7 separate regions of the Homo sapiens genome follow, and all the other regions are reported to be linked to region 1. Evidence: microRNA targets listed by miRTarBase, many of them from high-throughput screens and not tested one by one. Region 1 holds a microRNA gene; each other region holds the end of a gene's coding sequence.
The links. Region 1 holds the annotated microRNA hsa-miR-3180-5p (CUUCCAGACGCUCCGCCCCACGUCG, at 2,859-2,883, opposite strand). A microRNA usually pairs through its seed, bases 2 to 8, with sites in the 3' UTR of a target mRNA and lowers its output. Matches are read on the target gene's strand: a 7mer-m8 pairs with bases 2 to 8, a 7mer-A1 pairs with bases 2 to 7 and ends in A, and an 8mer does both.

Region 1 (4,068 bases):
CAAGGCAGGCTGTGGCCTCAGAAGCCCCGGCTGTCCTCCACCTGGAACTGGACACAGCTGTCCCTGCTGAGCTTCAGCAGCCAGGGAGCCACAAGTGGAGAGGCACCTGCGTGAGCCCCCCAGGAAGGCTACTGGTGACACCCAGACAGCAACGCTCCTGGACCCTTGAACACCTGCCAGCAGCTGTGATCTGTGTCCTTCACCTCTCCCAGCTTGACCCCTCTTCCCTGGGGAAAACCCAGCCGTCTCCCCGAGGAGGAGTTTGCAGGGTAGACAGCAAAATGGCTGGGCTGCCCCACAGCACAGAGGGTGGCCTGGGGGGCCAGCCAGGGCCTTCACATCCTTCCTAGGGCCCTAGTTTCCCATGGGTCCCCTCACCCCACCTTCCAGAACTCTCCCAGCGGCGGCCCCAGGTGTGTACAGAACAGCACCCACCTGCCCACGAGGTCACCCTGTGCCCTGTTGCACACTTGAGGGGCCTGGCATTCGGAATCTTGCCAGCTCAGGCTGGGACAGGCCACCAACCCCCAGGGTCCCCCTCCTCCAAACCCCAGGACCAGAGCCTAAGAGGACAACACAAGGCAGGGGCGGGGGTTCCACTGCTGTGCCAAGGGCCTGGAGAACACGGGCCTTGCTCTCCGCTCAGCAGCCACCAGCGCCCTTCTCTCCCGGACAGCTCCCGAGGGGCTGCTCTCATGGACACCATCAGGTGCTGGGAAGCAGGAACCACCAGGACCTGGACAGAGTCCCCAGTGACCGGCCTGGCAGACAGAGGAGCCCTCAGCTACAGCATCACAAACAACGGGTGGGGTAGGTCTGATGCAATTCTGTGGGTGCTGTTGCCAGGCAGGAGGAGGCCATCTCCACAGAGACAGCCGCGAGACACACGCGTCCGCAGTCAGGGAGCGCAGGAGCAATGTGGCCCCGAGGGGCACGGGCTCCATTGGTCCAGGAGAACCCATTCTTCTCCCACCCTCGAGACCACCCAGCAAAGCCCCAAGGACACACGGCTCCCCTAAGGAAGGGTGGCCACAGGCGGGAGTGACCCAGAAACGTTACAAAACCAAATGCCAGAACCCATCCAATGTTTAGAAAGCCTGGGGATGTGCCACGTCCCCCAGGGATCCAGCACGCACCCAAAGAGACACTGTCCCGGCGAGGAGCCTGGAGCCTGGGAAATACAAGGCATCAGACTGGTACCAAGACTCTCCCCAGCGCTGGGGACAACTGTCTGCTTATCTTAGTCCCCTGCGCCCTTTTCAATCCAACCCTGGGTCCTGGGCACCTCATAGTTCCAAACCCCTGCTATGCACATCCCGGCTGTGATGCCTGGGACAGGTCCTGTCCTGGCTGTGATGCCTGGGACAGGTCGTGTCACCTCTCCAAACCTGTTTCCTCATCTGTGAAATGCAAATCTCCACGGTCCCTATGCCTCGGATGGTCAGAGTCAGGATTCCGCATGACGACCCCCAACAGGAGCCTGGCACAGACCTGGCTCTGGGCAGCGTCTCCATAAAGGCCACCTGTTGTTTTTATCTCCCGAAAGCGAACATGACAAGGCTTTAACCCCCCACGGCAATCCGCCCTCACCCCTGTTCTCAGGATAGCCTTGGAACCCAATAGCAGAGCGCCTGAGGCCCTTCATGACCCCAGCCCACCCGCGAGCCCACCTCCCACCCTGCCCCTACCCCTCACACCTCCCGTGGCCAGCCTCCAGCCTCACGGTCTTTGCTCACACCGTTCACCCCCCTTCTTCTGGACCCACCTCATCGCCCCTTCCTAAGCATCAGCCCAATTCTTGCACATCCATCAAATCCTTGTCCAGACACCTCCTGGAACTCTTCCCTGCAGCCCCCTACAGCCATCCCCATCTCTCCGGGTACCCCGCAGCCCCAGGCCGAATCCCAATTCCTCTCCAATTAGCGACTGTTTGTCCTCCCAGCTGAGCGCGGCCTCCGCGCCCCGCCCCCGCTGGCGTCCGCAGAGCCCCCGGGTGGGACGTCTGTCTCCAGACCCGGGGTTTTTCGGCTCCCCGGGGCCGTGCCAACCGCGGCTCCAGGCGTTCCTTATTTAGCAGGGCCGCTGTGCCGCGCCGGAGCCTCGCCCTGGGAGCGTCCTGGCCCGCGTCCTGCTTCCCGTCCCGGGCCAGGGAACGCGCCCACGCCCGCCCGTCCCGCGGCCTCTCCCGGGTGCCGCTGGGCCCGCTACTCACAGCGCTGTGGCGTCCGCGGGGATGCGCAGCGCGGGACCGAGCGTCCGCAGCCCGCGGCCCGCGGCCCGAGCAGTTGACGCGGCAGGCGGCGCCGGGCGCTAGGCCGCAGAGGCAGGGGGGCTCGCAAGGCCCGCAGCCGCGCCCGGGGCCCCCCGCCAGCGCCCCGAGCCACAGGCCCAGGCCCAGGGCCAGCGCCAGGCGGGCGGGCGCGGCGGGCGGCATCGTTAGGGCAGCGCGCGCATGGCCCCGCCGTCCCCAGGCCCGCCCGCGCGCGGAGGCCGCGGCTCAGGCGGGGCCGGCGGACGGCATGGCGGGCGCGGGGCTGGATGGGGCTGCGGCCGCGACCTGCTGCTGAGCGACGCCCGCTCGGGGCTCGGGGCCAGGCCGCTCCGGGAGCTCGGCCGCCCGCTCGGACGTTGGCGCTGCAGTGCGGGCCCCGCCGCGGCTCCTCCTCCTCCTCCCCGCGCGGCGCAGGGCGGACGGGGCGAGGGGGGGCGGGGCGGGTGCAGGCTCCGCCCCCTTCGCCACAGCGCGACCGGGCCAGCGATGAGGGACTGGCATCCGGAGGCTTCACCCTCCGCTCCACAGGGTCGGCAGCAGGGCGGGGCCTCCGGAAGCTCCGCCCCACGCTTTCCCGGGGCGCATGCGACGTGGGGCGGAGCGTCTGGAAGCTCCGCCCGTCGCACTGTAGAGTCGGCCGAGGCGCACGAGGTATTTTTCACGCTCCGCCCCTCTGCAGGCTAAAGTGCGTGGGCGGGAAGCGGTGGGCAGGGTGCCATCTGGCTCCGCCCTTCTCCTGTGGTGTGGGCCAGGCGGCGGCTTCCTCCTCCTGCAGCAGCCACAGGCTCCACTCTGATCCTTCTCCCGCGGCATGGATCCTTCTCCCGCGGCGTGGATCCTTCTCCCGCAATCTCCGTGCGCGTCCCCAGTCAGTACCCGCAGCCTCCCGACGCACCCGCTGGCTCCAAGCCTCCCTACCCCAGGTTTCCTGGCTAAGAGAGAGACAGAGGGAGAGAGGGGGAAGAGAGAGAACAGGCAATGGGAGGTTGATGGTGAGAGCTTATTGAAAGACAAGAGGGAGGAAACCCACATCCTTCATTCCCCATCCATTCATTTATTGCCTTATTTATTCCATTGAATCTTCACAGCTCTAGAAAAAGTGTGCTACAATTATTCCCTTTATTAAATGAGGTCACTGAGGCACAGTTTAAGAAATTTGCCAGCAGGGCACAGTGGGTCACTCCGGTAATCCCAGAACTTTGAGAGGGGGAGGAAGGTGGATCCCTTGAGCCCAGGAGTTGGAGACCAGCCTGGCCAACATGGCGAGACCCCGTTTCTACAAAAATTAGCCAAAATTAGCCAAACTGGCTCACACTTGTAGTCCCAGGTACTCGAGAGGCTGAGGCCGGAGGAGCGTGTGAGCCCAGGAGGCAGTGGCTGCGCTGAGCCGTGATTGTGCCACTGCACTCCAGCCTGGGCAACAGAGTAAGACCCTGTCTCGAAAAAAAAAAAATGGAAAAAAGAAAAAAAGAACTGGCTGGGAGTGGTGGCTCATGCCTGTAATCCCAGCACTTTGGGAGGCCGAGGTGGGTGGATCACCTGAGGTCAGGAGTTTGAGACCAACCTGACCAACAAGGTGAAATCCCATTTCTACTAAAAATACAAAAATTAGCCAGGCGTGGTGGCAGGTGCCTGTAGTCCCAGCTACTAGGGAGGCTGAGACAGGAGAATAGCTTGAACCTGGGAGGCAGAGGTTGCAGTGAGCCGAGATTGCACCACTGCACTCCAGACTGGGCAATACAGTGAGACTCCGTCTCAAAAAAACAAAAAAAATCCTACCACATGTGCTCCACCAA
Region 2 (4,068 bases), not on the chromosome of region 1:
GGTACCTGTAATCCCAGCTACTTGGGAGGCTGAGACAGGAGAATCGCTTGAACCCAGGAGGCAGAGGTTGCAGTGAGCCGATATCACGCCATTGCACTCCAGCCTGGGCGACAAGAGCAACACTCCATCTCATAAATAAATAAATAAATAAATACACATATAAATAAAGCCAGGTGCAGTGGCTCATGCCTATAATCCCAGCACTTTGGGAGGCCGAGGCAGGTGGATCTTGTGAGGTCAGGAGTTCGAGATCAGCCTGGCCAACATGGTGAAACCCTATCTCTATTAAAAATACAAAAATTAGCTGGGTGTGGTGGCAGGTGCCTGTAATCTCAGCTACTCAGGAGGCTGAGGCAGGAGAATTGCTTGAACCTGGGAGCTGGAGGTTGCGGTGAGCTGAGAGCTGAGATCACGCCACTGCACTCCAGCATGGGCGACAGTGCGAGATTCCATCTCAAAAAAAAAAAAAAAAGAAAAGAAAAGAAAAGAAAGAAAAAGAAAGCACATTAAAAGAGACAGTTCCTGGTTTCCAGAGGGTATTATGAAAGGGCTTGAAAGGATGGTAAGAGCTGCATGCCTAAACTCTGACTGAGGTAAAAGTTGGTAACCCTGGGAGACTCCCGGAGAAAGGTGGGTGATCAGTTCAAATTATAGCTGAATGTTTATCTGAAAGGATGCAGGAACCCACTGTCAAGTGTTTATTCCTACAGCTCAAGGCAGGTATTAGCCTAGAAGATGGGTGATGGCCTCCTCAAGAGACTATAATCCTCGCCTGCCTGGGGCAAGAAATATGAAGCTCTCCTATATTCAGTTCTCTGGTTATGAGATGGCATCATATCCTTCCTTGAGATATACTCTTGAAGATCATAGTCTTCTAAGACAAAAAAGAAAGCCTATCTAAATAAAGAGTTTTAGGCACTATGACATGGTGGTGAAAAAATGTTTTGGTCAGAGAATATCTGCTCAGCAATATATAAAGCATCAACAATTCTGCTCAGGAATGATAGACCAGGCTTGTCCATGAATGCTACAAATCTGTTCCAGGCCTTCCAAACCCTGCTTGGAATGACCATGCAAAGGACTATTATATCACAAATTATGTGCAAACCACTATCCTATCAAAATAGGACAAAATCAGTAATTTTTTTTCACACAAATATACAACCTTCACCCTTCACTTCTTTCTTTCCGGTAACAGCAAGAAAGAAATATATATACCTTAAAACTAAATTATGAGGTACAGAGATAGGCCATAAACCCCATTCACAGAACACTGATAACATCTTCCCTATAAAACCATGGTCAAATATCAAATAATTGTTAGATACAATCACCTTTCATAGAGGCAGCTACCTGGGAAAACGCCAACTGGTCTTCCACTCACATACAGAACCACCATGGTGGGCAGAGGCACTTTGGTATAATGAAGAAAGCATGAATTTCAAAGTCAGATCTGAGCTCAAATCCTGGCTCCGACAACTTACTAGCCAGTCACCTAACCTCAATGACACTCAATTTTCTTGTATAATAGAGGGAGAACTAAATAACATATTATCAAAAATTCCCCAAACACTAATTCACTATGTGCATAAGACAGATAACAGTGGGCTTAGGGATTCACTGTATACACAGAGGAATGGCTGAGTTAAAAATAGGGAGATTCTAAGTGTTTCAGAGTGACTTTGAGCTAAGCACTTAAAATGTTTTAAATATTGGTGGAAGATGGGCTAAGACCTTCAAGGAGGACTGGTCATAAAGAAAGGCAGAGGAAGATAGAAAACATCTGTTGTATTGATTGCTCAACACCTCTCCGTCCCTTCTTCAGGGAAAGATTTTTCTCAGTGACAAAAGGAAGAAACCAGATGAGAAAGCCTCAGCTCCTTTTCCAGTTCCCAATCTGAAGGAGTTGTGTGAAGGCAAGATGCAGCTGTGGCCACTGTCTTGCCACCATGAGGTTATGAAAAATGAAAGTCAACATGCTGAAAATTATGGAGTTAAGAGAGAAGTGTGATGAAGTGCTGAGTTGCCAAACCAAACATAGCACTGCTTACCTCTAGATTCCCCTTAAGCAATCAATCAATGTTCTTAAGGTCTAGGCTGCTAGTACTTGGTATTCTGTTCAATACATCTGAAAATATCCTAAGTACTACCTTACACAAAAATTCTCTTTAATCACTCTCCCTAAAGTGTTTAGAAACACTGCTACAATGTCCTATACTTAAGATTTTATCATTTACCACGTGTCTGGCTTATCATATATTTCATGCATTACTCACTTAATCCTCACAACAACCTTGTAAGGTAGGTAATTGTTCCTTTTTTACACACAGGTCTGAGGCTCAGAGCAGTTAAGTGACTTGTCCAAAACTGACAAGCTAGTTCATGGTAGAACTGGGGTTAGAACATGGATATCTCCAACCCCAAAGTTTGTACTTTTAGCCTTTAAACTCTATATACCATGTGAAGGCAGAGTCTCCCACTAGTTTTATATTAACTGGTGACTGTATCTGAAGTTTTTGAGTCTACAGTTGTTTCAATTTCATTTTTTTCTGGTTGTGTAGACATATGTTGAAAAGATGAAGCCTAGGTAGTTCTCCATCATCTGCAGATCCTTCCAGAACTGTGGGAAAGGAGGGTTCAGTGAATTTTTGCTGTGTTCTTTTAACCTAACAGTGTTATTATATATTTTGTTGACAACTCTAAAGTCAGCTTGTCTTAAAACTAAAAAGGACAAAGGATCGGTGTTTATGATTTTACTTAACAGGAAACACGCTCTAAAAGGAAGGGACTTGCTCGCGGTTCCACTGCTGCTAAATGCCAGTGTCAGGGTGCAATCCCAGGGCTTTGGGCTCTATATACTACGTGCCTTTCATAACACTGCTGAGTGAAAATAAGCACGTCTTCATTGCATTTAAAAAATACTGTGCTTTTTTTCTTGCATATAAAATTAGTATATTCTCATGTAGATAATCTAGAAAGCATAGAAAAGTATACAGAAGAAAATAGAAATCACCTATAATCCTATCGCCCAGAGATGATCACTGTTAACATTTTGGTTTACTTCCTTCTCAATTTTTCCTATGCAAAAATATTTTTTTAAATTTTGGATTGTATGTCATTATCTTCCGTCTTATCCAATCATTTCCCCATGGCATTAAATTGTCTTTAAAAATGTTTGCAATGGCTGCAGAACCATCATATGGATAGCTCATCATTCATTTCAACCCTGTAATGTTGAAAATCTAGTTTTCTTCTTTCAGTCGTATATGATGCTGTCATGAACATCCCTTTCATTAATCTTTGTCTACTTCTAATTATTTTCTTAGAAGTAGAGTATGATTCTTAGAAGTAGAATTAAAGTTGATACTAAAGAACTACTTTTTAGAAAAGCAGCAGTCAGCCCTACTACCCACAATATTTGTTATTTATGAGGTTTCTTTCTCCTCATTATGTTTCCTCTGGTGTTGAATAAGCTGTGAACTATACCGATAGGCTTTCCCACACTCACTACATTTATAGGGTTTCTCCTTAGTGTGGGTTCTCAAGTGTAGAATAACTTGAGAAGTCTGCCTGAAGGTTTTCCCACATTCATTACATTTATAGGGTTTCTCTCCAGTGTGAACTCTCTGATGATCAACAAGGTTTCGATTAGAAGTAAAAGCCTTCCCACACTCATTACATTTGTAAGGTTTCTCTCTACGATGAAGTCTCTGGTGTTCATTAAGAGTTTTCCTTAAGATGAAAGTTTTTCCACACTCATCACATTCATAAGGCTTCTCTCCAGTGTGAATTCTCTGATGGTCCATAATCTTTGTATTAGAACCACATGTTTTCCCACACTCCTTACATTTGTAAACTTTTTTTCCTCTGTGCATTCGCTGATGTTGAGTAAGGTTTGAACTACGGCTAAAGGCTTTCCCACACTCAATACAAGAATAGGGCTTCTCTCCGGTGTGAACTCTGTGATGTGATATAAGGCCCGAACTCCGACTAAAGGCTTTCCCACACTCTTTACATTCATAAGTTTTCTCCCCACTGTGGATTCCCTGGTGCCGAATAAGATGTGAC
Region 3 (4,068 bases), not on the chromosome of region 1:
AAAAAAAAAAGTTATTGGAATGTTTTGATATCAGAATTTCTGGGGAACATTTGGATTTCCAGAATCTCTTTCACATCAGCTGTAATGTGAGTGTGGGCATAGAGCTGTCAAGTATTCTTTCTCTTTAGTACCAATATAATGTCCAGTAGCTATTAATTATTCCAAATCAAGTAAATTCTTGCTCTAGTATGTGTTAGAACAAAGGTTGAATTCTGATCAATATGACACTAATACCTGTGCCCTTAGGCCTTGCTCTAAAATGTCCTCCTTCCAATGCAGAATGACACATTGCCCCACCCTATTCCTTGACACTCTTTCGAAGGAATATTGGATGAAATCAAATCAATTTTCTATCTGGTGACTGGAGCTCTGGGCTGTGGTTGCGGAGATGGTCTGGTCCCCTCTCCTCTTCATATCCATCTGCTTCTGTTCTATAAGCCACCTTGGTGAGTTTGGAATGACACAGTTCTCTTGACGACCTGCCATAGCAAATCAGCAATATCTCAGGATTTGGGATCTTAACTAGGAACTGTATGCCACACATGTGTCCCTGCCCTGTGATCACCTCTCTGGGATGACATGGGTGTGTAAACAGAATATCCGAATAGATGTGATGAGTCCTGCATTGACATAAGCATGGAGAGTGTGAAATAGTCTCAGGAACATTAGACAAGGCTCCCTTGAGAAGGTGATTTCTAAAACCTAGACAAGAAGATGAAGAAGTATTTGTCCACACACTCCATCCTAATTTTTATGTGCCATTGCCAATTGGACGGAATATTATCAGGTGAAATAAGAACTGGAAAAATAAAGGGAGGGCAGGCCCACATTAGGAGTGGCCAATTGCCTTCTGGACTGTAGCGATGGATTGAAGGTCCAGCAACCCCACCCCAGGGAGACCCTCTCTTCTTTTGGGAGATCAGTACGTGAGTCCTGAGGGAACTGTTCAGTCATTTGCCTTATCCTTTCTGGCCTGCTTCCAGACTCTGGGGTCCAGATTCTGGGGTCCTCCCCTAAGCTGCACAACCTGCCTCCAGGACTGGAAGTTTTTGGATTTTACACTGCTGTTTACATAAAGTAGTATTGACTAGAATTTGCACAAATACATTTTATATTGAAAAATGATATAGAGTACTTATTATGAGCTGGAATCCAGTACTACTATGTGCTGGGTAACCAGGAGATCCGAGGTAACAATGTTTTCCCTCCATGATTCCAAGTCTGGCTGGAAAGACATTAGGGGAATCTGAAGTAATGTAGCCACTATGGTAAGAGTGGGGTCATGGTGAGGGAGGCACAAATGAAGCAGAGATCATTTCTTTGGGGTGAAGGGATGGTGGTTCACCCTCTGAATGTCTAAGAGACACTGACATTAAAGCTCAGCCTTGAAATGTAATGTTAATGAGACAGAAGAAGTATTAAAAGACATTTCTGGTAGAGGCAGTAGTTTAAAAGATTGGTATTGAGACATGAAATACTGAGATATATTGATGGGGGGTATGTTGCGCATTCGGGGAATAACAGCAGCAAGGTGAATAGGAGGGATTCAGAGAGTGCTGCACAGAGAGGAAGTCAGGCACCCACACTTTTGGGACCCTGGCATGACGGTTCTAAGCAGTGACCAGCAGTCCCGGTGGAGGAGAGAGGAGGACAACAGGGGAAGATGGTTCTGGGCTGGAGATCTGCAGGGAAGGTATGGCCCAAGGAAAGTGGGCAACAGAGCTAAGAGAGGAAAGAGAGCAATTCTGGGGTGGATGATGGAGGGCAGGCTGCATAGAGAAGGCAGCAGGGGGCTGGGAGGAGAAAATGAAAGCCCAGGGACTGTAGGTCTCCGTGAGTTCCAAGAACAGGTGGAATGAGAATGAGAAAGGGAGAGAAGGAAAGAGAAGAAAACTAATGGTCAGACATGGGGATTTAGAGGTGAAAATGGCAGATCAGTCCTGAAGGCTGACGAGGTGCAGAATATGTTCAGGAAGGAATGTTCCTGATAAGGAGAGGAGATGCTGGTCTGTGAATAGAGGTGTGAGTGTGGAGTGGAGCAGTCATTCCAAAGAACAAATAGCCCATCTTACACACTGCTGCTGGTAGGATGGAAAGAGAATTTTTGAGATGTTTGCCTGATTCCTCCAAGAAGAATGTTTGCCTGATTGAGAGGTTAGCTGGAGACTGACCAGAGTAGTAAGAGTGATAGGGACACATGATGTGAGCCTCAAGGAAGAATACTAAGAGCGGCTGCACAGAACATTGCCTGGAAGTGACACCAGGTGAACACTGACCCTGTGTTGTGGCCTGCATGGAGAGACCCGCCAGTGCACTGCTAGGACAGCACTGTGTCCTGCCTGTTTCTGCATCCTCAGCCCATAACACACTGCCTGGCCTGGAGTAGACTACCAATAACAAACTACTCCATTACCTGCGAGATAGAGGTGCTGCAATTTCTCATCACAGTCAGCATGAGCTCTCTGTGTCAGTCCTTACAGAATTTCCGTGATGCTGCCTTATTCCAGCCAGACTGCTTACTTGGACTCCTGGACCACTTAGAGCTCCTCAAAATCTGGAATATTCATTCATCACCAGAAACCCAGTCCTGGCATTGAGCAAACCATCATTTAGGACAGCTAAGCATCACAGTGACTCCTTCTCACTTCCACAGGGTCACCCACATAGGCACATGCACACAAGCACACAGCACAGGGAAAGGACACTGCCCCTGGAGCAGAGGCCACAGGACAAGGAAGCCCATCCTCAGGGCACTGCTGAGCCTCCCATTCATAGCCCCAAGGGCGCTGAACCTGAAGCCATCCAGGAATCCCTATGTGAGTGGTTTCTGTTTCCCCAAGCCCTGGAGAACAGCTGGGGCAGGAGTGGGAGGGCAGGAGCACACTGAGAGATGCCAGCTCCTTCTCAGTGCAGTATCTGAATGTGTCTGAATGACCCTGGTCCATGCCTTGACAAGGAGAGCATTGCTGTGACCTGGCAGGGGCCTTCTACCAACTTCCACCTGGAACCTGCCAAGGTGGCTGCATTTAGGGAACGGTGCAGAGGCAGACACCAGGACCTGTGTGAGAGGCAGATCAGCTCTGCTGGAGGCCATAGGGGGAACGTTGCTGGAGGGACATTACTCCTGGGTGACCCACTGGATGGGGGTGGGGGAAATTCTCCAACAAAGTTAACCTGGAATTGGTAGTTTTGACAATGTAGGTCACCAAAGAGAAGAAGAAATAAGGCAAGTGTCTGGTGGGAGGAGACACTTATTGTTCCTGGGGTCTCTGGAGGCCCCTTGGTGGGGCTGGATCACTGGCTTCCCCCAGAACAGGGCGCCGCTCCATGGCTCTGCTTGTGGTAGTCTGCGGCTATGTCTCCCAGCAAGGACAGAAACTCAGAAAAATCAATCTTCTTATCCTCATTCTTGTCCTTTTTCTCAAAGACAGTGGCGAGGTAATGTATGCCCTTTTTGTCCTGTGAAGAGAAAAACATACAAAATAGAAAAATTCAATCACAAACAAGTTTTGGGCTGGGAGGGGAGAGGAGGAGGCAGAGATACAGACAAGTACCTAGATCTGCACAGGCATGGTCGTGGGGCTGAGAGCACAGGGTGAGTGGGTGAAGTTGGGGTGAGGACGTGAGTGTTATCCCTGGAGTTCTCTAAGGAGACTTTTTGTCTCACACCTCAGGATGGGAGGCAGGTCCTGTCCCGAGGCACTCTGTTAAGTGACCTTGGGGAGAGCAGTCCCCTGCCCCAGCCTCAATCTTGCCTGTTCCCAGCATTTAAGGGCACTGCCTACCTTAGTTCTACCCCAGGGCCTCAAAATTGGCCCTCATGCTTTGTTCTCTTCTTTCTCTGACCTCCTCTCCTTTCTTCTCCTTTTCCACCAAACTCATCTTCTGGGTTCCCTACTCTTGGTCATCTAGACCCTTTGGTACCTAGTAGCCCACAGGTTTTTTCAGATTTGCCAATGAGTTTTCTTTATTGCAAAGAGGGCTATTGATTTCTACTAGCAATGGAACTTCTAGTGCTTTCCCAGTAATCTCAGGGATGTTGATGTGGGGCCTTTGGGAAGCAGGACC
Region 4 (4,068 bases), not on the chromosome of region 1:
TCTAAAAAAAAAAAAACAGTATAAGTAAAATGCACTGTGCCTGGCTCATTGTAAGCACTTTGTAAATGATAGTTTTTATTAACATGCATTCATCAGTAAAAAGAGATTGTATAGGATTTCCAGAATGTTTTTTTTCCATTTTTATTCAGTGATTCAGGTGAAACCTGGGCTTTTGAGTCAGTTTGTATTCAAATCTCTGCTCTATCGTTTACTTGCTGTGTAACATTGGGCAAATGAACCTTTCTGTGCCTCAGTTACATCATCTGCAAAATAAGGAATATAACCTATCTTATAATGTTGTTTTCAATTCTAAAAGAATTATTTTTAGTACCTACTCTCTGCCAAGCATTAAGGTGCTAACAGTGTCTGCGTCTGAGGATTAAATGTAGAACTATATGAAGTACTCCCAACAATGTCCAGGCTTATGTTAAAAACTTAATAGATGGCTCAGACTTGATCTGTTTCTTAGAATGAGAGAATTAGTTATTTCTGGCTTTTATATAAAATGTTTAAATGTCTGTAATTTAGTATCTTGTTGCGTCTCTAATATTCCCAAGAGGCTCAAGGAGAGGAACTGTACAGCTATTTTCTGAATATACCTAGGCCCACTCTGATCCTCTGCTATTATTTTTCCAGTGTCACTGCAAAGATAAAAGCCATTGAAGCAAAACTGAAAATGATGGCGGAAAATCCTGATGCAGAGTATCCAGCAGCGCCTGTTTATTCCTACTTTAAGCCACCAGATAAAAAAAGGACTACTCCATATTCTAGAACAGCATGGAAATCTCGAAGATGATGGTTGTGAATTACTGTAGCAGCAAAAGCAAATTGGTCTCCACACCTAAAATCGTCTGCCTGTGTACTTTGTAGATGTGAATGGTACTATTCAACGGAGCACAATCACATGTTAGCATTTGGTAACATAATGTTTTTGGATGTTCTTATGGATGTTTCTTCCCTAAACTATGTATGGAATTGAGCATCATCCAGAATAAATAGCGTTGTATCCCAAATTGTGATTTGAACCCTGGGATGCTCTAATTGGCTGGTTGGTTTGGATTTGTAACTCCAGAAACATTCTATAGTGTGCCAGAGCAAAAGGCAAATACACAAAATATTATTTAAATCAGGAAACTAAAAATATTAACATCTATTAAAAAATTGAGCATTTTTCTACGCTCGTGTGTCTTTTACAACATAAAGAAAAAGTAAAAGGCAGGGAGGGAAGTGAGAGACAGATTTTAAATCATGTTCAGAACTGTTGTTCCAGAATTTACTACGGCAATCCCTCCAACTGGACTGAAAAAGAGAAAGTTCTTGGCAAAAAGGAGCTGATTCTTTGAACAAATGTTGTAGTAATCTGTTTAAGAATTATGCTTATTGTTTCAAAATCCCAACTAGGAAAACATGGTGTATATCTTAAAATTGTTTGTGTTGACAAAACTAGAATCAAATTTAACATTTTATACCACAACACAAGTTCTATTTGGAAATTGAACTTTTATTCTATAGCAACCATTTTTTTCAAATCTAAATAACCATGCCTTCTATAATAACAAATGTTGCTATTATCATGGGACTTTTAAAATTACATTTATTGCATGGGATTGTTTTTATAGCATGAGAATGTTCTGTTTGGAATTATATCATGGTCAGTCTAAATAGAAAAAGCAAAATTTCTTTGAAAACCTAAACATTGCTATATTGGTCACTATCAAACATACAATTTTCTAATAATTGTGTAGCGGTCTAAGTGGAAGAGATTGCATTATCTTGTGCAGGACGAGGAGAGGACATGCAGTGGGCACAGAAAGTCAATGGAACAGATGCCACTGTGGCACCAAGACTGTAATGACTCTGTGTGGTAGGTAGTTTTAAAGGACTGCATGCCTTGGAAATGATTCTTCACTTGGAGAACATACTTGCCTCTAGATATGTTTGTCACTCTAAGCATCCTGAATATAACAATAGAGAAAGATAAGTCAACCAACAGATTTAGGGATGTGTTTCTTCAGCACATTTTGGTCATTTTGATGCCAAGTTTGACATACTGTTTAATTGGGCAGCACCTTTGCTCCTTTACCAGGTATGTATCACTTTGTTACTCCAGGTGCCATTCTTGGTGATGACAGAATGTTTATCACTATCGTTGTTAGCAAGAGGAAGCTTTCAATATAGGAACTTAACATCTTCCCATGAGTATAAATGAATTTAAGACATTTGAATCAAAACTTCAGTAGAGGGAGGTTTTAGAATTCATAAAACTGGTTTAAGGAAATTCTTTTTACTTTTCCCAAGGTTAATCTTTTTAAATATCTCTAGACATCAAATACTTTCTGTATGTATTAGCTGTGTCTGTCTATGATGCAAGTAACTCTCCTCCTATTTGGGGGATAGTTCAGAGAGGTAGGAGCATTATCTCCCATTTTTCTGGTGACTTCTTGGAGTATAGAATTCACCATTTTATCCGTAAGTCTTCAAAGGATTATGGTGGACTAGAACTTACATAGTGCAAAATAGTCTTCTATTTTTAATAGGAACTTAGAAAAAACTTAGAATTATATATAGAGTTGTTTCCTTTAGAAACCAGAGCTATTTATTTGTATTTAAAGCACTGTTTATTATTTGTACTGATTCTTATCCCTCTGTGTGAATAAATGTAAGACGGTGTCCGTGTGGTTATATCTTCTCTCGTTCACTTACTGGCATAGACTGCAGTTCTCTGACAGGCTTGTTTCCACTCAGGACTCTGGCCAGCATGTCCACGTGGGGTGCTTCTTCTAAGTGCCTTCTCTGCAGAGGGTTCTGGCTAGAGAGTCAAACTGAGAGGCAACTCTCTTTACCCTTTATGCCTGCCTACCTCTGTTGTTAGAGATGAGAATAGAGACCAGCTGTTTCCATTGCAAATGTCACTATTTGAAAAGAAGTTGTTAATGGAAATCTCTGCAAGTATCGTACTGTGTTTAGTCTCTCGTGGTAGAGATTTCAAAAGAAGAAATGTATGTATCCTAAATATGCTGAAAGCAGTCTGATGAAAGGTTTTTAAATTTCAGGTGTTAACTTGGTCAACTCTTTGTTAGGAGGTTGTCTGTACTTTAAGTAAAATTATTCTTTGGTTTACTGGTTATTTTGGTTTGCTAAAATTATGTCACTTATAATTTTGATTTATATACAAGAGTGAAGAATTGAAGGAAATACTGAGGAGAGACGTATGAACTATTTTCTTCATCTCAATTCCTATTTTATCAAATGCAAAATGTAATCCTAACCAGTTGATTTTCTATAATTGGTATCTTAGTACTGGGGAGGAGTATCACATGAGGAAAGATTTTTCAAAGCATGTCAGCTGAGGCACAAGAATCGCTTGAACCCAGGAGGTAGAGGTTCCAGTGAGCCGAGATTGTGCCACTGCACTCCAGCCTGGGCAACAGAGTGAGACACCGTCTCAAAAAAAACAAAAACAAAACAGGTCAAAAATCAGTTGCACAAGTTGTATGAAACCAGGTATTCTGCAGCTCTGTCTCTTGTTTATTAAGATATGCACAGTTTCTGAATCAACAAATATATCTGTGATTCTTTTATACTACTACATAAAAGAACAGGAGTAATTCTTGCCTTATAAATTAAATGTCAAACATTTCCTATATGTAATCATTTGTTCCTAAAATATGATTTAGTCCCAGCATGCTTATCCCTGTTTTCTCTTTTTCTCTCCAGCTCCTATCTAGTTCTTCAACAAATCCTGTCAACTCTACCTTCCAAATGCCTCTTGAATCCAGCCATCTCACCACCTCCAACACTACCACCATTTTTCTTAAAGCCACCATCATCTCTTCCCTGGACTATTACAATACCTTCCTAATTATCTCCCTGCCTCTGCTATTGATTCTTTAGGGTCCGTTTTCCACACAGTAGCCAAAGCAATTTTTAAAAAAATTATTTTAAAATGTGATTCTCTTCTTTGTGGCTTTCCATCACAGCCTAGAAAAAATTGAAAGATCTGTAAGGCCCTAATGACCTGTCCTTCACTACGTGTCTGACCCTATAGCCTACTGTTCTCCCCTTGTG
Region 5 (4,058 bases), not on the chromosome of region 1:
AGATGATATTTAAATAGATATATTTTCTACAGGAATGTTTCCTGAAGAGTTTCCCAGGGACTACCTGAGCCAGAGTCAGGCAGAGTGCTCAATAAAATAAAAATGCACATTCCTGGGCTCAACCACAGACCCTCTGGAGGCCCAGGAATCTGTACTGTTAACAAGCTCCCTTGGGGATGCTTAAACATGTATTAAAGTTTAAATAATGTTACTCCATACTATTTGGAATTTCCCTTGCATCTTTCTTTTGACCACAAATATTTCATTATCTCTTTTACGCTTCTTACTAGCCAGAAGGAAAAACAGGCAAACAAAAAACCATTTCTGATTATGCCTGTAAGCAGTGAGAATTAGTAGTGGTATCTTTCCCTGCCTCAAGAAAATATGGGGGAATAGGCAACATATGATTTTGCACCTACGTTTCTCAAAGGTGCTCCATAGTACTTATTTTTAAAGCTTTCACAATGTATACATAATAAAAATGTTCAAAATGATTTGTAAACTCTCATCAGATCAAGATAATCCAGTGTAAAAAGAACTGCTGTTCAGTGTTGCTGCTGAATTCTCACAAAGACCCCTTCATAATCTTTGTTCACAAACAGGGAGCGTCTCGGCAGGCACTCCAGAGCTCTCACCAAATGAGGCACTGCCTATTAAGCAGCATGAAAGTACCTAAAGACTGCCCATAAAACAGGAACAAAGAAAACAAAGCTCAGTTTCACCTCCAGCCAAAAAGGAGTCTTCATGACCTATCAATATGTAAGATGAATACAGATCATGCTGACTTTCCTCAGAGAAAAGTCTAATAAAAAATGTCCTTATCAATATCTGCTTGAAATCTAGTTTATATGGAAAATGGAGAGCATAATACACTTCAAAATGCTACTAGTATCTACTACAGTGCTTATGTCCTATAAAATCCCTATGGACAAAAACAATTTTACCTGTGAATAAAAATTAGAAATGAAAGAGGTAGGTGACTATCATTTGAAGATAATCCCAAAACAACATGTTGAATAATATGCTTGAGTCCCCAAAGAGCTCTTTAACTGGACAATGAGTTCCAACATCGGTGCAATTTCCTTAAGAGCAGAGTTTCCCAGATATTTCATGATGTCTTCAACCTTTCAATGCCCCAACTCCTGATACAGTGCCACACTCTTCAGACATTTAATATTAAGAAATAGCTAATGAAGTAAAATGTAAAGAAGTAATACTGGAGACCAAAGGGTGAGGTGATGCTGAAGTCAGCTAGGCTCTTCAAAAATCTATACCCTAGTATAGAGGAAAGCACATTTGAGCTGGACAGGACGTTAGAGATTCATCTAATCCAACTCTCTGGTTTTACAAATGAAGAAATAGAAGCTTATTTTTTCCACTGGCTCACAAAACACTAACATCCTGAAAAGATGCTATAAATCCACAGTTAACTTACTTAATTAGTCAATGATGTAGCCAAGTGGCTATATTTTCAGCCCTTATCCCTGTGGGCTGTTTTATAAAGTGAGCCACTGGTAACAGAGAAGCTGACCAAGGCCCTAGATGCACCTGGGGGCAGACTGTCAGCAAGAGAAAAACAATTTGAAATGTCAGACATGCCCTATTAAAACTTGTTCTAGGCTCAGACGAGGGTTCATTTTCCCTTCTTTGTAGGAGACACACATCTGAGCACGTTCACAAACTCCAGCTCTGCTAGGGCAAGCATTGGGGCAACAATACTATTCTGCCCAGAACACTTACAACTAACACAGATGGACAACTGGAAACCTCCAAACCCGCAGGGGCAAGACCTACACATAGCTATCTTTAATTTCTCAATAATTGTCAGTCACTTGTTTTGCAAATCAAAAACAAAAAAAAAAATCACTGGTTTTGCTTCACAGCCTTATTTATCTAAGATTTTTAAGTCTCACATTAAAAAGTGGTTGTAGGTCAGATGTGGTGGCTCATGCCTGTAATCCCAACATTTTGGGAGGCCAAGGCAGGCAGATCGTTTGAGCTCAGGACTCTGAGACCAGCCTGGGCAACATGGTGAAACCTTGTCTTTACAAAAGAAAATACAAAAAAATAGCTGGGTGTGGTGGCACACACCTGTGTGTGCGTGTGTGTGTGTGGTTCCAGCTATTCAGGAGGCTGAGACAGGAGGATTACCTGAGCCTGGGAGGTTGAGGCTACAATGAGCCATGATCACACCACTGCACTCCAGCCTGGGTGGCAAAGCGAGACTCCAAAAAACAAAAAGTGGTTGTAAGTGATTTTATTTTTTCTTTTCTATTTTCCAGTGTTTCTGTAATGCTTTCATATTTCTTTTGGTAGTTAGAAAATAAAGGCTAATTTTTAAAAAGAATATCATAGTCTAAAAAATTAAAGGATGCATAGAGTTCCCTCTTGACTATGTGACATCTAAACTGAATGAACTGTCTGCGTGGCACAGTGGAACAGCGCAGTCTCAGGATTCTGACAGATTTTTGGATCCCAGCTCTACCACTAACCTTGGGCAGGATTTTAGTCCCTCTGAGACCTGCTTTCTTCACCTGTAAAAATGAAAACAATAATACCTACCTCACAACATCCTGTAAGGATAAAATGATGCACAGTGCCTGACACATAGGTGTCCATAAATATCAACCCCTTCTCCCTATACTCCACAAAAACCCTTGAGTAAAAGGAATCACCACAGCCTGTACCAGCCACTTGCCATCCCCCTCACTACATTCACCTTTTAAATTTGCAAGGATCCTGTCTCCTAGATTTTGCGCTATTGCTTGAAGAGTTGCTATTGTGCTTAGAAAAGTATCTACATTTTATGTTCTCTTTTACAACTGTACATGCAGATAAAACATTTCTTAAAACTATCTTCCCATAAATGATAATGCACATTTCCTAAAGCACATATCATGTATAAAAACAATTCTGAAAAATAAGACTGAATTAATTTGTACATTATCTCTTAAAGTGCACCAAAGTAAATAGTAATGACCCTTAAAATGTCGCTAACCTTCCTGGGTTAGTTTTTAAAATAAAACTAAATATATATTGATTGAGATGTTTGGCTCCAATGTGATGGTAAAAGCAGCAGTGTCTTCCAGAAAAAAAAAGTCTTGATAAACTCAAATAAGCATACCTTAGCAGCACACGAAACACCTACAATTCAATGTAACTGCAGGCTCAATAAAGCACAATCCTGATTCCCACTATGAAAACAAAATCAATCAAGGAAAAACCCCAAAACCAAAAAAAAGTCTCCTCACCCTAAATTGAGGATTTCTATTGAACCCTGGAGGTAATATTTGTAATCACTTTCCTATTATTTATTCTTGGTAACAGAACTATAATTACCATTCTTTCTTTACACTGCTCACACACATACATACACAAACCCTATAAAAAAAAATAAAGTGGAGAGGCTATGAGAAAGAGAATTCAATGTCAATAAAGAACAAGCATCACCCAAAATGTCAGCCAGTTCCAATATTCACACCACCGTCCGATGTTCCCCACACACATAGACAGCACTAGGACGTATCCGTCGCTTTGTGTGACCAGGGAGCTGCGGCAAAAACTTGAAGGACTTAGGCATCATGTCCAGGCAAGCATCATGGAATTTCTTAATCCTCCAGTAGTAGATCAGCGGATTCAATGCAGACTTGAGGTAGCAGAGCCACAGTAGCCAGGTGCTAATCTCAAAAAAGTTGTGCTGATAGTAAAAGTGCTTACTGAATGTTGCCACAAGGCTGTAAGTGGTGAATGGGGCCCAGCAGACAATGAAGACAGCAAAGAGAATCAAAATAGTGGTGAAGGCACGTGTTTTAAAGCCCATGTCAATGCTCATCTGGAAAGGTCTCTGCAGACTCATGAGACCCAGTTTGCTGGCCTGGCTGAGGCATATACCTTCAGGGTAGCTATGGATCCTCAAGGCATTGTGCCGAAGGGTGTTGAGTATGCCCATAAATGAGTACAGTATTACCAGGAAGGGTATGAAGAAAGAAATGAGAGAAATCAAAATCACATAAGCCTGGTAGCCTGGATTGGTTGTGTACCCAAACACACACTGGGGA
Region 6 (4,068 bases), not on the chromosome of region 1:
ATATGCCCCCCAGTTGAGTCTGGAACAGCAGACTAATCAACATTACTATAAATGAGATAAAGACTGTTAAGTAGCCTCGTGTCATTTCAGGTCAGGTTTGCCACAGAATGAGTTCTGATGTTAAATCTAGGGGAAAAAAATTGGTTGCCGGAACCTTTTGGGTTTTAGAATTGTGAATAAGAGATTGTTAATCAGTGTAGGATAAGACAGACATCTTAAATAAATGAGCAGGGGAAAGGAAAGCTTATCTGAACAAACTGTGCAGTGGTTAAATTGTCAAGTGAACAAATTGTCAAGCAGTTAAATATTTAGGGAAAAAATGTACATTGACCCTTTTTTCATATCAGGTACCAAAACAAGTAACAAATGGATTAGGAGCTAACTCCTAATTTTACCAAATCAGGAAACACAAACCTAGAAACAGGTGATGATATAGGTGAATATGCCTCTGGAAATGGATAAGCATATGCTATGCAAAAAAATGACAATTTGCTGGTAGAAATGTAAATTGACGCAAGTTTAATAGCAGCATATGGCAAAATGTACTGAGATCCTTAAAAAAAGGTACACTAACTTCTTGATTTGGTAATTCTACTCTCTAAAATTTCTAAGGAAATAGTTAACATAAACAAATGTTTATAAAAATGCTCACTGCTGTTTTTGTTTGTAATAGCTAAAAAAAGGAAAAAGCTTTATATTATTGGAAGTAAAAGCAGCAGCTGGATGAGGTGGCTCACATGCCTGTAATCCCAACACCTGGGAGGCCGAGGCAGGAGGACTGCTTGAGTCCAAGAGTTTGATATCATCCTGGGCAACATAGTGAGACCCCATCTCTCTGAAAGACAAAAACAAAAAACAAAAAACAAAAAAACCAAAAAAACCCAAAAAACTGGGTGCGATGGGATATGTCTGTGGTCCCAGCTACTCGGGAGGCTGAGGTAGGAGGATCACTTGAGCCTGGGAGATCGAGGCTGCAGTGAGCCATGATTGTGCCACTGTACTTCAGCCTGCAACAGAGTGAGACCCTCTCTCAAAAAAAAAAAAAAAAAACAAAACAAAAAGCATTAGGAAGCTATATGTACCATGTGTTCAACAATGTAGATACAAATTTACGAAAAAAAGACAAAAGTATGACAAAATGATAACATTTATAAAAAGAAAAAAGTACACAATGAGTCCATTGCTTAAAGGAAGCAGCAAAATAACTAATAATAAAGTCAAAACTTATGTAATTTCAGAAAGCTGGGCCTGAGCCTAAAAGATGATGACCAGAGAAAGGATGAATGCAGAATATATAGTAATATGCTTTTGAAATTACTCCTAATAGTCATGACATGTAGCCTTTGCATGAATGCTGATGGATGCTTTTCTTATGCGCAATTTCAACACACTATAGTTCTAATATATCCAGGGCTAAATCTGTAACAAGATTTTACTTAACAACACTTCTCAGATTTGGCATACACTGACTGCATTAACCTCTAAGTAATATCCAAACAACAGACTGGATCCTCATATGTAATTATAAAAACAGCCATGGATTGTTGTAGTATACATCAACCCTGAAATGCAGTCACTGGGCATTTAAGTATTCAAATAGGTTACCAGGTACAATAGTATAATTAAGTTCAGGACCTGTGGACTTTTAAGGTAAAATGGGGATATGATTTTGCTCTTGAACATAAAAGCTCCAAGTACAAGTTATCTTTCAACTTTACTTAGCAGTTCCTGGTTAGTTAACTATGAATCTTGAAGAAAGTAAACTTATTTTATTTGTATATGAATTTTCAGTGCTTAGTACATACAACTATGAATTGAATAAGAAGAAAACTGTGATTTTCAGCATTGTACAAACTCCCAAAAAGAACTGACTTGCAAAGGAATTTAATCAGTTTCTAAACAAGACTGCCAATGTAAAGTAATTCAAACTTTTGAAGTTAATGAAAATATTTATTCAAACCTAACTGTAGTACAGTCTCAAGCTGAGTTAAATAAACATTAACTATATGATATTTAGTTCCTTAGGAATAGACCACTGCCACACCATACAAATTTCTTACATCACAAGTTTTTGCAGTAAGGTTCAGCAATTAAGAAGACATGATTTCTACACTGAGAAATGTTGTGTTAAAGTTGGATGGATTTATTTTTTTAAAGGCCCAGTACAAAAAAATGGTTGAGGAAAGTGACTCTTCAACAAAATATACACCTGTAGAAAAAAATCCCTAATATACTGATATTTAATTGAACGGAAAGTACTAAAGAGAACATACTTTAATATCTAGGCACAATTGGTCAGGTACTAATTATAATTTCTGTTCTCATTTAAAAGTTTAAACCAATTCTTCAACTGGACTGATGTGTGTGAGTCTAATACAGAGAAGGCACCTCTCTCATCTCTCACTCTCCTTAAGGACCTTTTGAGAGAAACTCTTTGTAACACTTTAAGGGACACAGACAATGCACTATATCTAAGTATAGATATAGTTATTTAACATACCCATTGTAGGAGAAACTAAAATATAAAACTATGATTTCTCTTTTTACATCTTATGATGGACACAACACCAGAAGATAATCCTCCACATAAACTCTCACATAGAACACAAGATTTAAATTATATGTGCATTGGTCACTACAATGTAAAGAGTTCTATGAATTAGTGCAATTCTTTAAATCCCCAGCATTTAGGGGAAAAGTACATACCGAGAAATCTCTACTACAAACCAAAATTTTATGGCTCAATAGTCTAACCACTTAAAGTTCTGTAAAAAATCTTAAGTTATAAATGAAAGATCAGAACATTCAATAAATGGTTTACAAAATTCTCTCTTTAAAACAAAGAGAACAGAGTGATCAGAGTAGGTAAAGTGTGAAATTCCAGAAATATAATACTTACAGCAATTATAAGAAAGGGGTAGTATTCACTCTAGGAAAAAAACTCATCAAACTGTTGATTTCTAATTAGATATTTTGCTATCAGTTGAGGTGGTTATTATTTTGTAGTACTTAGTGATTGTGTATTTAAATGTCTTATTGAATAGTTACTGAAGGTAATTTATAAGAATAAGCATCATTTTCCTCCAAAACAAGTGAGAAACTATTCCAGATGAGTAAGTCTCAGAATTAGGGATCATAAGAAGTCAAAAAACACAGTGTAAGAACATTAGGTTGATTTAACCTCTATTTCAACAAGATTTACACAGTATTTACAATATGGAATTGTCAAAGCTATACAGTTTTGCAGATTGGCTTTACTTACATTTCTGCAAACGTTTTTCCCAAAATAAAAATATACCAAGTAAGTCTATTTACAAACTAGGAAGCTGTTTCAGAAACAGCATGATTTAGATATAAAGTGAAGTTTCAGTACAATGAAAGTGCAGGTCATGCTTTCAGATTCTGTCAATATCCCATTCCCTACACTCAGTTTAAGGGATATGAGTTTTTAACACCTACTGTTCTTATGTGTCCAGAATGTTTACTCATCATAATGCAATGATAACAAAAATTTGTCTACATCCATTCCTGCTGGAAATGAACTGGGAAGCTTCTTTTTCTGTTGAAAAAGAGAAAGAAAAAATAAACTCAAAACAAGGCCAAAATGCTTTCTTAGTAAGTCACCTAAAACAGTATATTGGGTTCTTTCACATACTACTAAAATTGTCAAACTTTTTTAGTCTATTAGAATTTTACTTCTATAGAGAAGTAGAGACAAGTTTTATAAACCCAAAGTTACTTAAATATACTTCAATGGCACCTGAATGTTAGTTTATGGCAAAAGACATGATACAAATCCAGAGTGTCTGAATGTTGAATGAGACAAGATAGAACATGCTTTCTATGTTAGGTGGTTATTACTGCTTAGAAAGCTTTACTAACAGATGTTTAGGGTTACAGGTACTTATCAGTTCCAAAACTTAATATACACTAGATACTTTATGTATACTACATTTAGACTTCACAACCTAAGATACCTGGTAATATCATGTCAAGTGATGAGGCTGAGACTCAGAAAGGCTACAGACTTAACCATGATCACAGGACCAATAAGCAGTAGATGCAGGA
Region 7 (4,068 bases), not on the chromosome of region 1:
AATAATACTCAGGGCACAGTGTTAGGCATATGACAGTTACTTTAAAAAATGCCTGCAGACCCGGGCGCGGTGGCTCATGCCTGTAATCTGAGGCAGGCAGATCATGAGGTCAGGAGCTCGAGACCATCCTGGCCAACATGGTGAAACCCTGTCTCTACTAAAAATACAAAAATTAGCTGGGCATGGTGGCACATGCTCAGGAGGCTGAGGCAGGAGAATCACTTGAATTCGAGAGGCGGAGGTTGCAGTGAGCTGAGATTGCACCACTGCACTCCAGCCTGGCGACACAGCACGACTGTCTCAAAAAAAAAAAAAAAAAAAAAAAAAAAAGCCTGCAGAATAAATGAAAACAACAATAACAAAAACTGGGGGTCAGTCCCACACCACTATTCACTGCATCTCTGGAATTCAGCTTTTGGGATTTTTTTTCTATAAAATGAAGTTGATATTTTCCCACTTCCTAAACAGAATGAATGTTTTAAGGAACAAGGAAAGAGCATTTGCTTTGAATTTCTAATATTAAAAGGAACTATAAGAATAGAAATACAGTTAACCACTATTTTCTTAACTCTCAACGAACAGATATATTTCTGCTTTAAATGAGTGTTGTCTATCACGGCCAATCAGCTGCTAGCAAACTCTTACCATTTATCCAAACTCTGCCCTGAGGCACTTGCTGTCTTATCCAACCAACCATGTACAACTCTACCTCCACCCTTTAGCTATATACAAGGATTTCCTGTGTCAAAGAATAATGAGTGGGCCTGGCACGGTGGCTCACACCTGTAATCCCAGCACTATGGGAGGCCGAGGCTGGTGCATGACCTGAGGTCAGGAGTTCCAGACCAGCCTGACCAAGATGGTGAAACCCTGTCTCTGCTAAAAACACAAAATTAGCTGGGTATGGTGGTGCATGCCTGTAATCCCAAGCTACTTGGGAGGCTAAGGCAGGAGAATCGCTTGAACCCAGGCAGCAGAGATTGCAGTGAGCCGAGATCACGCCATTGCACTCCAGCCTGGGCAACAAGGGTGAAACTCCATCTTAAAAAAAAATTAAATTAAAAAAATAATAATAATGAGTAGGCAAACAGGGAAGAATATAGAGGAGAAAAATTATCTTAATAAGAACAATAGAATTTGAATTGAAGAAGGCTAGGAAATATATCTTAACTAGCCTAAAATACAAAAAATCAATGTTAATACTTGTGTTCTTCCAATGAGATGATATTTTTGAGGGCAGTACAAATTTCAATAGTTGCTTAAGTGAATTGGTAGAAAAAAGTTTAAGATTAGACAAAGTTCTGACCCCAAAGAACATACATTTGTTTTAATTACTCCCAATACAATTGATCTTATCAAGTTAGATGTGCTCTCAACACACATCAGTCTTAACCATAGGAGCCTTTACTCACTTGTTTAAGGCAGAAACTCAACTGCCTTACACAATATCCAGTAGCTTTCTTCATTCAATCCTCAAGAAAAACTTACCACTTTGTAATTTACCTAAACTGTTTACCTAGAGAAAACCTTTGTGTCCTTAGAATTAGCTGGATTACTCTTTGAGCTCCCTCCTGATTGGACGCTGATGCTGTTGAATGTGTCAGGAAACGTCCTCAGAAGTGGAGGGAGCTCAAGAGTTTTGTAAGTGGTTAAATTCTAAGGCTCACAAACCAAATTTTTTAGATGTATTCAAATGCCCGTGAAGCTTAGAATTTAACAAGAGGGCAAAAAAAGATGAGTCTGTTTTATTATCCTTGACTATGCGGGGTTTGAAATTTAAACATTTCAGAAACAATTTAGATCTATCCTTTGTGGTGAAGCTTAACCAGCTATTTCCCAGGTATATAGAGCCGGGGAATCTGTTATTTCTTTCATCAACTTTAATTTTCCTGGGGTTTTAGCTTTGTAAGTGTCACCATTATAAAAGAGAGTTAAGTTGATTTATAGAGGAAAAGCTAACATCATGGATCTTAAATGTAGTTATAGAACACTGAATGTATCCACTTTGCTGGTTTTATGGATCAGGAAAAAAGTGAAAACTGTGCCACTGAAAAATTACTTTTTCAGTGATTTTTAGAAAATTAAAATCAACCCAGGAAGCCCCAAAAATCCTGACGCTGAGGGTAGAAACATGATTTATATTTTATCATCATTCTCTTTCAACTCATGTAAACCTCTGGTCATAAAATCTCAAATTACTTTTTAAGGTGTCTAAGAAAACACTCTAGACCAAGTTAACAACCCTGGGGTTTTTAGTCAATGCAGTTCTAGCTCAGTCTCTGTCTCTGCATGCTTATTTATCTATGTGTGTATATCTTACTGTTTCTTAAATATTTTTTAATGTCTCTCTGACTCTTCTCCCTTTAACTGTTTTTTTTATTAAAAATGAGATATACCACATCTGTAATCCCAGCACTTTGGGAGGCCAAGGCGGGCAGATGACGAGGTCAGGAGATCGAGACCATCCTGGCTAACACGGTGAAACCCCGTCTCTACTAAAAAAATACAAAAAAATTAGCTGGGCGTGGTGGCGGGCGCCTGTAGTCCCAGCTGCTCAGGAGGCTGAGGCAGGAGAATGGCGTGAACCCGGGAGGCGGAGCTTGCAGTCAGCCGAGATCGCGCCACTGCGCCCCAGCCTGGGCGACACAGAGAGACTCTGTCTCAAAAAAAAAAAGAGGTATACTCAATGTTAAAAAGTAAAGAGAAGCCATGTAGGTAAGATGTTGTGGAGCTAGTAGTTAAAAAATAAAACTACTCATGATTTGGTATATCTTAAAATAAATTTTTATACATTATAACATATGTATAACATACAGTTATGCATTAAAGTAACTATTAATTTCCTATATGGAAGAAAATATTTAAAAATAATCCTGGTAGGAGTGAATTCATGTGAAATGTAGGCAGAAGTGATAGTTTAGAATATGCTTTAAAACAGATTTCATTTACTTTATATTCAATTTGATTTTACTGATTCTATAACTGGAAAAACTTAGAATTCTATAAATAACTATTTAAGGTTTCCATATTTCTACATTGATTTCTGATTTCTAAATTGTTATTTCGTTTGTGAAAAGTTCACAGTAGTAATTGAATGTTACATTTTAATAGCCACATATTAATATGTCTTATGAGAAGATCTAATATATACAACCTTAAAACCATGGATAAGCTGTGAAGAAAAAAAGTCAATGAAACTTGAGGAGGAAAATAATTTATGAATTAAAAATGCCACGCAAATTTTCTTTTTCAGAATTGGTATAAAAATTCTGAAAGAGAAGCTGCTACTCAACTAGGATAGTATCCACATTTTCTTGTGTGAGCTCTGACTCTAAGGCACAAGGCAAGTCTAAGTGTTCTTGTGACAAGCGAGAACTTTTCAGGGAGACATCAGACCAGCTGTCACAGTATGGCTGAAATCTCTGGGCCAATGCATTACCAAACCTTTGGCATCGGTTATATCTGTAAGATTTACCTTTGTGTGTATACATGTGTTCCAACAATTGGCTCTTTCGAGGGAATTTATGACCACAGATGGTACAGCTCATTTTTCTTTTCCTTGAAAAAGAAAAATTACAGTTTAATTCTACTGGCTCTGTGTCTTTGGAGATCAAAGATACTTGACTGATCTGCAAAGGCTCTGTGGTACCCCGGTTGGTGTGGTCTGGCTGCTGTTCATTCTCCTTAACAATGAAGGAGCTGAGCCTGCGGCATTCAAGGGCCTCGCTGTTTTCATTAAGGGGATGCACTTCACCAAGGTCATTACTTTCCAGAATGGAAGCAGGGACACCGAATGGCAGGGATCCAGACACATGTGTATGGAGATGTTGCCTTAGGTTACTACGGGAATCAAAACGTTCCCCACAGTAATGGCATAAGTGTATTTTGACACTGTTTTCAGTAAAAGTGGGGCCTGTCACCTCTGATGAGGGTGAGGGGTGGCTCTGGGAGATCACAGATTCTGGGTCACATCTCTCCTGCTTGATGGAAACTGGGGGCTTCTGGTGCTCCTCCAGGGCCTGGGTGGCAGGACAGGCCCTCTGCTGGTCTGCAGTGCCATCATCCAGA

Region 2: miRTarBase lists ZNF660 as a target of hsa-miR-3180-5p. Seed matches in the 3' UTR shown: 7mer-m8 at 2,613-2,619, 7mer-A1 at 1,883-1,889 and 8mer at 527-534.
Region 3: the mRNA of S100A7A is a reported target of hsa-miR-3180-5p. Seed matches in the 3' UTR shown: 7mer-m8 at 978-984 and 8mer at 56-63.
Region 4: the mRNA of RBM18 is a reported target of hsa-miR-3180-5p. The part of its 3' UTR that is shown has no 7-base or 8-base seed match.
Region 5: the mRNA of GPR63 is a reported target of hsa-miR-3180-5p. Seed matches in the 3' UTR shown: 7mer-m8 at 3,084-3,090 and 7mer-A1 at 2,276-2,282.
Region 6: the mRNA of NPAT is a reported target of hsa-miR-3180-5p. Seed matches in the 3' UTR shown: 7mer-m8 at 3,104-3,110 and 7mer-m8 at 2,879-2,885.
Region 7: the mRNA of ZBTB25 is a reported target of hsa-miR-3180-5p. Seed matches in the 3' UTR shown: 7mer-m8 at 839-845.

What each region holds. Positions count from the first base shown.
Region 1 is chr16:18,399,372-18,403,439 of GRCh38, forward strand. It overlaps MIR3180-3 (microRNA 3180-3), which reads right to left and starts at 2,900; the gene lies at 2,807-2,900. It overlaps LOC112268172 (a long non-coding RNA gene), which reads left to right and starts at 608. Exons shown (of 3, transcript XR_002957900.2): 1 at 608-810. It also overlaps the pseudogene PKD1P5-LOC105376752 and the pseudogene PKD1P5.
Region 2 is chr3:44,594,547-44,598,614 of GRCh38, reverse strand. It overlaps ZNF660 (zinc finger protein 660), which reads right to left. Exons shown (of 3, transcript NM_173658.4): 3 at 1-4,068. The coding sequence ends at 3,426. All of the region lies in intron 2 of ZNF660-ZNF197 (ZNF660-ZNF197 readthrough), which reads right to left. The region is part of intron 2 of ZKSCAN7-AS1 (ZKSCAN7 ZNF cluster antisense RNA 1); the gene reads left to right. Among named protein-coding and RNA genes, the nearest start is that of ZNF660-ZNF197, 12 kb to the right of the region's middle.
Region 3 is chr1:153,418,536-153,422,603 of GRCh38, reverse strand. S100A7A (S100 calcium binding protein A7A) reads right to left here. Exons shown (of 3, transcript NM_176823.4): 3 at 1-3,459. The coding sequence ends at 3,295. It also overlaps a transcript of S100A8 not described here. Among named protein-coding and RNA genes, the nearest start is that of S100A7A, 4.0 kb to the right of the region's middle.
Region 4 is chr9:122,238,612-122,242,679 of GRCh38, reverse strand. RBM18 (RNA binding motif protein 18) reads left to right here. Exons shown (of 6, transcript NM_033117.4): 6 at 637-4,068. The coding sequence ends at 796. Among named protein-coding and RNA genes, the nearest start is that of LHX6, 12 kb to the right of the region's middle.
Region 5 is chr6:96,794,997-96,799,054 of GRCh38, forward strand. GPR63 (G protein-coupled receptor 63) reads right to left here. Exons shown (of 2, transcript NM_030784.4): 2 at 1-4,058. The coding sequence ends at 3,476. Among named protein-coding and RNA genes, the nearest start is that of GPR63, 40 kb to the right of the region's middle.
Region 6 is chr11:108,155,461-108,159,528 of GRCh38, forward strand. It overlaps NPAT (nuclear protein, coactivator of histone transcription), which reads right to left. Exons shown (of 18, transcript NM_002519.3): 18 at 1,755-3,559. The coding sequence ends at 3,482. Among named protein-coding and RNA genes, the nearest start is that of ACAT1, 36 kb to the left of the region's middle.
Region 7 is chr14:64,483,639-64,487,706 of GRCh38, forward strand. It overlaps ZBTB25 (zinc finger and BTB domain containing 25), which reads right to left. Exons shown (of 3, transcript NM_006977.5): 3 at 1-4,068. The coding sequence ends at 3,285. Among named protein-coding and RNA genes, the nearest start is that of ZBTB25, 18 kb to the right of the region's middle.